Homo sapiens: one gene and its partners. The protein of the gene in region 3 purifies or fractionates together with the protein of the main gene of each other region. This does not show direct contact. Each region holds a gene or a part of one and is shown on either strand. Other genes may lie near its edges. The genes, in order: SGO2, SULF2 and SPATS2L.

Region 1 (3,654 bases), 94 kb from region 3:
GGGAAATCAGGTCATAGCATTCCAGCATCAAGGGACCACTTGTATTTTCTTAAATGTTTCATTTTCATGCATTTACACATGCCATTCTTTCTTCCTGGAATGCCCTTCCTAATCTTGATGCCTGACAAGTTTTTAGTTTCTAAGACTTACTTATTCATTCAACAAATATTTACTGTGTTGATATCATTTGTAAGGCGCTATTCCATGCGCTGGGGAATATATCAGTGAATAAAACATAAAAATCCATGACCTCCTAGAATTTAAATTCTAGTTGGGGAAGACAGACAATAAATAAATCTATAGTATGTTAGATAGTGATAGATGTTGAGGGAAGGAGCTACAGTTTTGTTTCGTTTTGTTTTGTTTTGTTTTTTGTTTTTTTGTTTTTGAGACGGAGTCTCACTCTGTCACCCAGGCTGGAGTGCCATGGTTTGATCTCACTCAGCTCACTGCAGCCTCCACCTCCTGGGTTCAAGCATTTCTCCTGCCTCAGCCTCCTGAGTACCTGGGATTACGGGCACCTGCCACCACACCTAACTAATTTTTTTGTATTTTTAGTAGAGACGGGTTTCACCATGTTGGCTGGGCTGGTCTCGAACTCCTGACCTCAGGTGATCCACCCACCTCAGCCTCCCAAAGTGCTGGGATTGCTGGCATGAGCCACTGCACCCAGCCTGGAGCTACAGTTTTAAGTGACCTCACTGAGAGGGTGACATTTGAAGAGACTTGATGGAGGAGAGTGAATGGGCCATTTGTATATCTGGAGGAAGATGTTTCTAAACAGCATTTATTCTAAATGCAGAATAACCAGTATAAAGGACCTGAGGCTGAAGAATGCCTGGCATATGCTCCAAACAGCTAGATTTTGGTGGCCAGTATGGCCTGAGGGGAATGCGATAGAGGGAGAGGAGGAGGAGTTCAAATTAGAGAAGTGTAGAGCTAGTGGAGAGACCGTACTAAGGACTTTGGAGAGAAGTGGGAACCATGGGAGAGTTTTAGATTGTATAGATTAGTTCACTGTAGGGACAGCAGCAGTGGAAATAGGGAGTCAAAGCCTGTTGCAGAAACTCAAGTGAGACATGGTAGTGCCTCTGACTAGGTTGGCAGCAATGGACATACTGAGAATTGGTCAGATTCTAAATATATTGTGAAGGTAAGTTGAGATATGAGAGAGATTTTTGGCCTGAGCAACTGGAAGGATGAAATTACCATGAACTGAAATAGAAAATGCTCTGAGTGAAGCAGGTTTGGACAAGTTAAATTTGATGCATCTACTTTAGTTATTAAAGTGGAATTGTGGAGTAGACAGCTGGATACATGAATCCAGTGTTCAGGAAAGAGATCCAAACTGAGGACATAAATTATGGAGTTCTTGGCATCTGGCTGGTATTTTAAGTGATGAGACTGTATGAAATCACCAAAGAAGGGAGTGTAGATAAAGAGAGGAAGTTCAAGGAAAGACCCCGTTAGAGGTTGGAAGAACCTGTAAAAGAGACAGAGGAGGAACAGGTAGGTAGGTAGGTAGGAAAAAAACATAGGCGTTTGATGTTCTGGAAGCCAAGGAAATACAATTTTTGAGGAAGGAGAAATTAACCACATTAAAATGCTGCTGATAGATCAAGTTAGATGAAGACTGAGAATTGACTATTAGATTTAGCAGCACAGAAGTCATCAGAGATCTTGGAAAAAAGCAGTTTTGGTGGAATAGTCTAAGTGAAAGCCTGATTGAAGTAGGTTTATGAGAAAGTTGGAAACTGAGTATAGACAATGTTTTCAAGGAGATTTGCTGTAAAGATCTGCAGAGAATTGGAGTGGTAGTCTGAGTATGAAGTGGGAACAAAAGAGGGTTCTTTAAGGTGAGGAAATAGCAGTGTGTTTGTATATTGATGAGAATGGTCCAGTGGAAAAGGAAAAAAATTGATGATATCGGGAAAGAATTGTTGGAGTGATGTCTTTAAGGAGGCAGGAAGGCATGGGATCCAGTGCATGGATCCGTATCTAGGAACACAGTTGATCCCTAACAACAGGAGAGAAAACAGATACACAGATACAGGTATGGTATGTAGGTAATTGCAATGGAAGTTTTGAGAAAGTTCTCCACAGGTTGCTTCAGTGTTCTGAGAGAGAATAACAATGAGTGAGGATATGAAATAATTCATAAAGAGGAGTGACCCAGGGATTGATAACAGCAGTGAAGGGAAAGGGGTAATAGAGTCTAGTGACAGTATATTCAAGGATGGGAATTTTTAGGGAGGAGGGAAGATGAATGGTCTGCAGACATGAATGTGTTGTAGCCTCTAGAAGGGGTGTGGGAGGGAAAACAGCACCTGCCTGACAGGACTGCAGGAGAATCTGTGTCCTCAGGGGAGAGGGTGGTTCAAGAAGATGAAGGGAACATTCAGAGAAGAGATTGAGGCTGTAGAGGTTTGGTTGATGATGGAATGTGAGTTCTAGAGGACCTCATGAGTCTGGCAAGGGTAAGATAGGCAGGCTGTATTCATTTCCTTTGGCTGCTGTAACAAATTATCATAAATGAGGTGCTTAAAACAACTGAAATGTATTTCCCCACAGTTCTGGAGGCCAGAAGTCTAAATTCAGTTATCACTGGTTTTCCCACCTCAAGGTGTATTCCCAGCTGCACTCTCTCTGGAGGCTCTTCAGGAGAATCTGTTCCTTGCTTTGTCAATTCCTGATGGCTGCTGGCAGTCCTTGGCATGTGGCTGCATCACTCCTGTCTCTGCTGTCTCTTGTAAGGACTCTTGTGATAGTATTTAGTCCTGCCTGGATAATCCAGGATAATCTCCCCATTACAAGATCCTCAATTTATTCATATCTTCAAAGGCCCTTTTTCCACATGAGGTTTAGAATTAAAGGGATCTAATAACTTTGGGGGACCATTTTCCAGCTTACCACAGGACCAGATGAGGAATGTGTAGCACTTAGGGGATTCGAGTGAGGGGAATGAACGTGACCCAGGAGTTGAGGGATTCTTGCCATGATTGATAAAGTGAGCTGAGTCCTGGATTGACATAGTGAGCTGAGTCCTGTGGACTCAAGGCAGGTAGTGGTGGGGAGGCTGAGTATTGAGGGTTAGGCAGGTGCAGGTGACAGAGTTTTTTGTTTTTTTTTTTGTTTTTTTTTTTTTTTCAGATCTCTTCAGATGGAGGCAAGGAGGCTTGGGAAGGAAATGGAGGCATGGGGAGGTTGGTCTTACATGGCTCAACATCAACTGCTGCTTCTCAGTGAAGCTATTTCTGATCCTTTTCCTCTGCCCAGTCACAGTTAATCGCTTCTCCTCTGCATTGTGTATTGTAGCCATTACTCTTGTAATACTATAATGTAATGATTTCTTTATCTTCCTGTTTCCATAATAGGCCATAAATCTAATAGACAAATTTAAGATTTCCTATTTCTCCAACCCCCTTCCCCACCTTGGATTGGGTATATCTCTTCTGTACTTCCTTTAAACTCTGTGTATATCTCTAAGGTTATACTTCTTACATTGTATGAAAACACTGTCTGTACCCGCATTGTACCATGCATTCCATGAGGGCAGAGACCATATCCTGTCATCTTTCCCCTGCACCTGGTACATAGATGATTAATGTAGGCTTAAATGAAAAAAATAATCATTTACCTTTTTGGATTATACCT
Region 2 (3,654 bases), on a different chromosome or scaffold from region 3:
CTTCCTGTGGTTGGTGATGGAGTCTCGATGGCCTGGCCCTGGGGGTGGTGCCAGGGTGCTCTGTGTCAGGCCTGGGCGGATGTGGAAGATGGGGGCCTCTCTCAATGCTGATCTGCAGGTGAGGGGGCCCTCCCTGAAACCTGCTTTCTCTGGGCCTCCTTGGAATGGGCCTTGGTGGAGATCTACAGACAGCCCTGGCCCAGCCGGATTGAAGGCACTGTCTAATTGGGAGGGCATTAAGATCGTTATAATTAATTGGCATCCCGATAAATGGCATGGTTGCCTAATTGGGGTGGTTGCTAGGGAACGAGGCCTCACTTGGAGCCTAAAGGGGAAGAAGCGCTGGGCTGGCCACAGTTGGGTGTCAGGGTACAGATCCAGCAGTGAATGGACCGGAAGGGAGAGCAGTCCATCCGTATCTGCTGGTGTTTACTGAGCAGCTGCTGTGTGCAAGTTGCAAATGGAGTATCAGTTAGGGGTACTTGCCTAGAAGAACTGTAAAGTAATCAGGTTCCTTTCTCTTGCAAGCAACGGAAAAAGAGAAGAAAAAAACTCAAGCCAGCTTAAGGAGAAAAGAAGTGGACTTACTGGTTTTCATAACCAAAAGTCTTAAGGTGACTAACTCTAGCTTCAGACACAGCTGGACCCACAGCTCAGATTTTGTAATGAGAATCCATTCCTATCCACCGCTCCTCTGCCTTCCATGAGGCTGATGTCTCTCCAGCTCTGGGGCGGGCAGTCCCTGGCAGCTGTGGGCACCGTGGCTAGGAGAGCCAGACTGCCTGGCTCCCTGCCCAGCAGTGGGATCTGGGGCATGCTACTTAACCTTTCTGTGCCTTGATGTTCACATCCAACAAATGATGATGATCATAGCACCTGTCTCCTGCTTGTGGTAAGCATGAAATGAGATGATCAATGTCAAGTGCTTAGCAGGGCGTCTGACCCAGGTGAGCCTTCAGTAGGCATTGACTGTTACCATAACTTAGGTGTCAGGACAGATGTCATGGAGCAGAGGGGTCTCATCCCCTCTGGTTTAAGCCCAAAAGGAAAGAACAAGCCTCTGATCTGGCAATGCACACCTGAGCCCCATGGTTCCCTCTGATTGGACTGTTTTTTGTCCAAACCAGTCACTGGCTAAGGAAATGAGTTGCCAACAATTGGCTTAAGCCAGGCTCACAGGCCTCTCCCTGGAGCTGGATGGAGGCTGACTGCTGAGACCCCAAAGCCTGGAATAAAACAGCACGGGGAGTCCCCAGTGAAAGGGAAGCCCGGTTGCTGGAGAGGCAGATGGCCAGTGCCTGCGATGATGGGCCACTAATGTGAGCAATGCTGGCCAGATGGACCCATCTTCATTTTGGCCAAGGTGGAGACTGGGGAAACACGCTGCCTGGGCAATGCCTCTCCCTTCCACCAGGGCCAGGAGGCATCAAAGGCCTGACTTTTCTGCCTTACTGTCTGAAGGATGGGGCCTGGCCTTGATCCTGTGCTTTCGGGGGGCCAGGGGCAGTGTTTGTCTAACCTCCCACCATGAGAATCATCTGGCTGTATTTGTTTAAAAAGGCAAAGACCAGATCCTGTTGAATCAAACTTCTAGGGAGGGTCCTGGATGCTGGGGGGCATGACCAATATGTCATGTGTATATTCTATATCAGCAGGAGGGTTTGGCGAAGAGAGCTCTGGAGCGTGGGCCTCTTTGTCTTCCTGCCTAATGCAGGGGCTGTCAGAAGGCGGGGAAAATGCTCTAGGCCTGGCGTGCTGGCTCATGCCTATAATCCCAGCACTTTGAGAGGCCGAGGTGGGAGGATCCCTTGAGGTCAGGAGTTTGAGACCAGCCTGGCCAACATGGCAAAACCCTCTCTCTACTAAAAATACAAAAATTAGCCAGGTGTGATGGTGCTTGCCTGTAATTCCAGCTACACAGGAGGCTGAGGCACCAGAATCGCTTGAACCCAGGAGTCGGAGGTTGCAGTGAGCTGAGATCGCACTACTGCACTCCAGCCTGGGCAACAAAGTGAGACTCAGTCTCAAAAAAAAATTTAAAAGAAAAATGACTGCATGATGTGATGGGGTGGGAGGCAACTTTAGGCAGGCTGTCAGGGAGGCCTCTGTGAGGATGTGACCTTTGAACTGTGACCTAGATTTTAGGAAGGAGTCCGCCTTGGAAAGATCTGGGGGAAGAGCATGCCAGGTAGAAGGAACAGCTAGTGCAAAGGCCCAGAGGCGGTGGGAGGGGCCTGTCCAAGACACCTGCCCCAAACACAAATAGAAGTCAAGTGGGGTAGGCCAGGCGTGGTGGCTCACGCCTGAAATCTCAGCACTTTGGGAGGCTGAGGCAGTTAGATCACTGGAGGTCAGGAGTTCAAGACCAGCCTGACCAACACGGTGAAACCTCATCTCTGCTAAAAATACAAACATTAGCCAGGTGTGGTGGCACGTGCCTGTAGTCCCAGCTATTTGGGAGGCTGAGACAGGAGAATCACTTGAACCCGGGAGGCAGGGGTTGCTGTGAGCCGGGATCACACTTCTGCATTCCAGCCTGGGCAACAGAGTCAGACTCTGTCTCAAAAAAAAAAAAAAAAAAAGTCAACTAGGGTAGAGGGTCAGGAGTAAGTGGGGGAGGGCACGTCAGAGATGAGAAATACAGGCCATGCTAAGAAATTTTAGACTTTATTTTAAATAAAATGGATAACTGTCTGGACGCGGTGGCTTATGCCTGTAATCGCAACACTTTGGGAGGCCAAGGCGGGTGGATCACCTGAGGTCAGGAGTTCAAGACTAGCCTGGCCAACATGGTGAAACCCCATCTCTACTAAAAATACAAAAATTAGCCAGGCACGGTGGCGCACACCTGTAATCCCAGTTACTCGGGAGGCTGCAGCAGGAGAATCGTTTGAACCCAGGAGGTGGAGGTTGCAGTGAGCTGAGATTGTGCCATTGCACTCTAGCCTGAGTGACAGAGCAAGACTCCATCTCAAAAATAAATTAAAAAATAAAATGGAGAACCATTGGAGGGTTTTAAGTCAGAGAATGATATGATTTGTGTTTCAAGAAGATCCTGCTGGCTCCTGTGAGAGGCGTGCTGTGCAGATGGAAGTGGTATCACCGGGACTGTTAGGCAACAGAGAGGGCCCGAGAGTGGCTTGGACCGTGGTGGTATCAATGGAGATGGAGTGAAATGGGGATTGGAGATGTATTTTGGAGGTAGGGCCCACAGGACTTCCTAGTGGATTGGATTACAGAGTGAGGGAAAGGGCTTTGATTCTCAACCGAGGGTGATTTTGACACCCAGAAAACATTTTAACACTATCCGGAGACAGTATAGGTTGTCCCAACTGGGGAAGGGTTGCTACTGGCATCTAGAGGGTAGAGGCCAGGGATGCTGCTTAACCTGCAATGTACGGGATGACCCCACAGTGAAAAATGATTCAGCCCAAATATTCATGATGTATCCTGCCAAGGAGTCAAAGGTGACTAGGCAGCCTGGTGCGTGGTGATTGCTAAATAGGGAAGATAGGAGAGAAGGTTTTGGGGAGGAGGAGTGATCTGGAATTCCGACGTGGAAATGTTGGGTTTGAGATGAACCCCACCTGGATGTCTGAAAGCTCAGTGGGTGGTGAACGTGGATGTCTGCAGCCGGTCGGGGCTGGCAACCTA
Region 3 (3,654 bases):
GCATAGCACTGAAGTAACACTGATTCATTCATTCAGTATTTATTATGTATCTACGAGATACCAAGCACATACAGTAATGATGAACAAGACATACATCACCCTGTCACCACTTTTCTCATGTAGAAATTGCAGAGGATATTTTAAGGCTTCACTAAAACAAATACCCTTTTCTAGAATATAAATTAGTAGTGATTACACACTGAAGATCAAAACTCTCACACTCCTTGTGTATCCTATTAGTGTTATCCAACAGAAATTTAACACATAGTATGTATATAATTTTATATTTTCTGGTAGCCACATTTAAAAAGTGTAAACAGGTGAATTAAATTGGGTAATATATTTTATTTAACTTAATGTATCAAAAATATCATTTCAACATGTAGTCAATCTTTTTTAAATTATTAAAGTAATATTTTAAATTTTTTATTTTGTACTAAACCTTCACATTTCAGCATATACATTACACTTATAGCACATCTCAATTTGGACAAGCCACATTTCCAGTGTTCAACAGCCACATGTGGCCAGTGGCTACCTTACTGGACACTGGAGGCTTATGTGTGAATCAGCCCCCATTGAGCTACAACCTGTTGAAGTTTACAAGTGGACTCCCGATAAATGGAGAGCTGATGGTATTTCTGGACTATAATGTTAGAGGAAAGTCACTGGATACAGTGACTTTCTGTTATAGCTCTATAACGCTCCACCAGTTTTCATCTGCAAGAGTCCCAGAGTTTTACTATATTTGAAGACAGATCTATACTAAAGTAACACTGATACATTCATTATTTATTATGTATCTGCAAGATATCAAACACATGCAGTAATGATGAACAAGACATACATGCATGTCAGACATACATGCATATATGCAAATATGTACAAGTGGTCTTGAAGATTTTAATGTTCAGTGATTTCACTAGTAATGAGACAGCTTTTGAGGACCTAAAAAAAATCTCTACTCACATTTCTCAATTGATATCTGATGGGGAATGTTGAAACGAACCAGTAGACCATATATCAGTTCTCTGATACACAAATAAAATGTTTTCAGCTCTAGGTTAATGAGCCTATGCTCATTTGCATGCTTGGCTTCCATTTAAAATTCTTTTGCATTTCATTACAATAATTTTTTCCCTCTGCTCTAAGGTCATTGTTTCCATTAAGTTATAGTATAAATCCCCTTATTTTCAAGAATATGATCTCTTTACGACACTATACACGAAGATCTGTGTTTTAAATTTGATATGGTTTGAATGTTTGTCCCCTCCAGATCTCATGTTGAAATGTGATTCCCAATGTCAAAGGTAAGGCCCAGTGGGAGGTGATTGGATCATGGGGGCAGATCCCTCATGAATGGTTTAACACCATCCCCTTGGTGATAAGCGAGTTCTTGCTCAGTTACTTCATGTGAGATCTGCTTGTTTAAAAGTATGTGGCACCTCTCCCCTCACTCTCTTGCTCCCATTCTCACCATGTGGTATGCTGGCTCCCAGTCATCTTCTGCCATGATTGTAAGCTTCCTGAGGCCCTCACCAGAAGCTGAGCAGATGTTGGCATCATGCTTCTTGTACAGCGTACAGAACCATGAACCAAATAAACTTCTTTTCTTTAAAAATTACCCAGGCTCAAGTATTCCCTTACAGCAATGCAAAAACAGCCTAACCCAGAATTCTCAATTTATAGTATCTCATCCAGACTGCCTCTCAACTGGAATTTAGAGAGGTAGTGACTTGGAACCAGTTTGGACGTGTCATTGTTTTAACACAAATGTTTATAGACTCAACATAAAATTAGTTTTTTAATCTTTTACAGTAGGGTTTCTCTGGGTGGCTGGTACCACCCATCTCCACTCCAACAGAATCACCTGGGGAGGAGAAGCCTGGGCCCACAGCTGAACTGGAATCTCTAGAAATGGTGTTCGGGAAGTTGCATGTGTAATAAGTACCAAGGGAAACTCATTTCACACTGAAGTTTGACAGCCAGTGCCTTATAGTGAAGTTCTACCTTAATATCACTAAGGATAAAATTGCATACTACCATTTGAATCTGTTTTATTACTGGAGGAAATGCTGTTTTCAGTACTTATGTACTTTGTTTACTACCTTTGCTGAACATTTTGTGTACTGTGAGTAAATTTTTAAGGGTATTCATTCAGCTCATAGAAAGTATGTTGTGCTTTCTTGATATGTAAGTTATGAATGATGGATTCAACTGAAGTCTAATTATATTGATCATGAATGGACTAATGTCTAAAATCAAATTGACTAGGACCTAGATCATATTCCTTTGTATTTTTTCAAGTGTAGTCTCTGACTGTGTCAGGTAAGATATTCATTGTTTTTTATTTTTTTCTATGAAATTGTTTCAAATGTACTTTAATTAGATCATAATTCTACAGAAAGCCATCGAGCCAGACACAAGTACTAGGGCTTCAAAACAGAATTGAACTCAGTGTTTGCCCTTGGGAAGATTGCAGCCTCTGCAAGGCAGGGGTGAGGGGCAGATATGGAAGCCTTGTGTTAAAATATAAAACCGTGGTACCATGGTTTTAAGTAAAGCAAGGTACCATGGGAGTAGAGAGAAGCAGGGCAAGGGTGACTATCTGAAAAGGCTGGGTTTTACAAAGATGACTGTGTTCTGTTTGAGTGCAAGCCAGTCAGCCAGACAAGTGAAGACATTCCCACAAGGTCACCCAGGACATAAGGAATACCAGAACTTGGTTCTCCTAGATCAAAACTGCACTCATCAAGCTTTCTACAAGAACCTGGCCTTCAAGAGCACACTGGCTTCCCTTTTCTCACACCCAAAACTTTCTCTGGTAGTAAGATGTTAAGAGTGATACATTTCCGTTTCAGGCCACTAACATGCTATTTAATTCATTCCAGCAATAACTAAATGGGAACCTACCTTTAAAAGATGCCAAAAGCAACATCCTGCTAATTGATTGCCACATCTATTAAATCTCCAGAGAGAATCTGACTCCCTAGATTTTAAATATAGTTGAGATATTATGATGATGTTTTCTGATTTAAGCCCTCCATAAATTAGATGCAATGATTATAGTATCTGTTGTCACTTCATTTTTGCTCTATCTCCAGTCACGCTTCTGCCTTCATTAATTCGGAATGAAATATCACAAGACATTAATGTAGCACTTGGAGATAGGAGGGCTACATTTTTATAGCCTCAATATGAAATTGTACTTAAAAGACTCATAAGCCTTTACTGGAATAGCAGGGGGGAAAAGGCACTGCTCATCTTCTATAAGCCTCTTAATAACCTTCCTGGATAGTTATGGATGAGGAAACTAGGGCTCAGAGATGCCCAGGGTCACTCTGCAAGTAATTACCAGAGCCAAAACATGCCCAGGTCTTTCTACTCAAAATACAAGGCTCTTCTAGTACACCCTCTAATCTTCTGGGGATTCTTTTAAAACAGTTTCTTGACTGTTTGCAATGAAAGGCATTATTGCCAATATGTAAACAAAAACAAAAATCTTGGCATCCTCCATCACTTTATCGTCAGTGTTTTTAGTTTATCACTTCACAGTCATTATTTGGTGTTTTCTTACAGAAGGCAACAGACTACTGCAACAGAAACTATCCTTAGATGGGAACCCCAAACCTATACATGGAACAACAGAGAGGT

What was found.
Region 1: the proteins of SPATS2L (region 3) and SGO2 purify together in Homo sapiens (affinity purification with mass spectrometry; one large-scale study listed by BioGRID and IntAct). This does not show direct contact.
Region 2: the proteins of SPATS2L (region 3) and SULF2 purify together in Homo sapiens (co-immunoprecipitation; one large-scale study listed by IntAct). This does not show direct contact.

Annotation. Positions count from the first base shown.
Region 1 is NC_000002.12:200,529,153-200,532,806, forward strand, and holds part of SGO2 (shugoshin 2), read left to right. Parts: intron 1-2,623; exon of another isoform or gene 2,624-2,714; coding exon of another isoform or gene 2,715-2,749; intron 2,750-3,150; coding exon of another isoform or gene 3,151-3,203; intron 3,204-3,654. UniProt on the Homo sapiens protein: Cooperates with PPP2CA to protect centromeric cohesin from separase-mediated cleavage in oocytes specifically during meiosis I. Has a crucial role in protecting REC8 at centromeres from cleavage by separase.
Region 2 is NC_000020.11:47,778,944-47,782,597, reverse strand, and holds part of SULF2 (extracellular sulfatase Sulf-2 isoform a precursor), read left to right. Parts: intron 1-2,943; exon of another isoform or gene 2,944-3,654. UniProt on the Homo sapiens protein: Exhibits arylsulfatase activity and highly specific endoglucosamine-6-sulfatase activity. It can remove sulfate from the C-6 position of glucosamine within specific subregions of intact heparin.
Region 3 is NC_000002.12:200,435,543-200,439,196, forward strand, and holds part of SPATS2L (SPATS2-like protein), read left to right. Parts: intron 1-3,579; coding exon 3,580-3,654.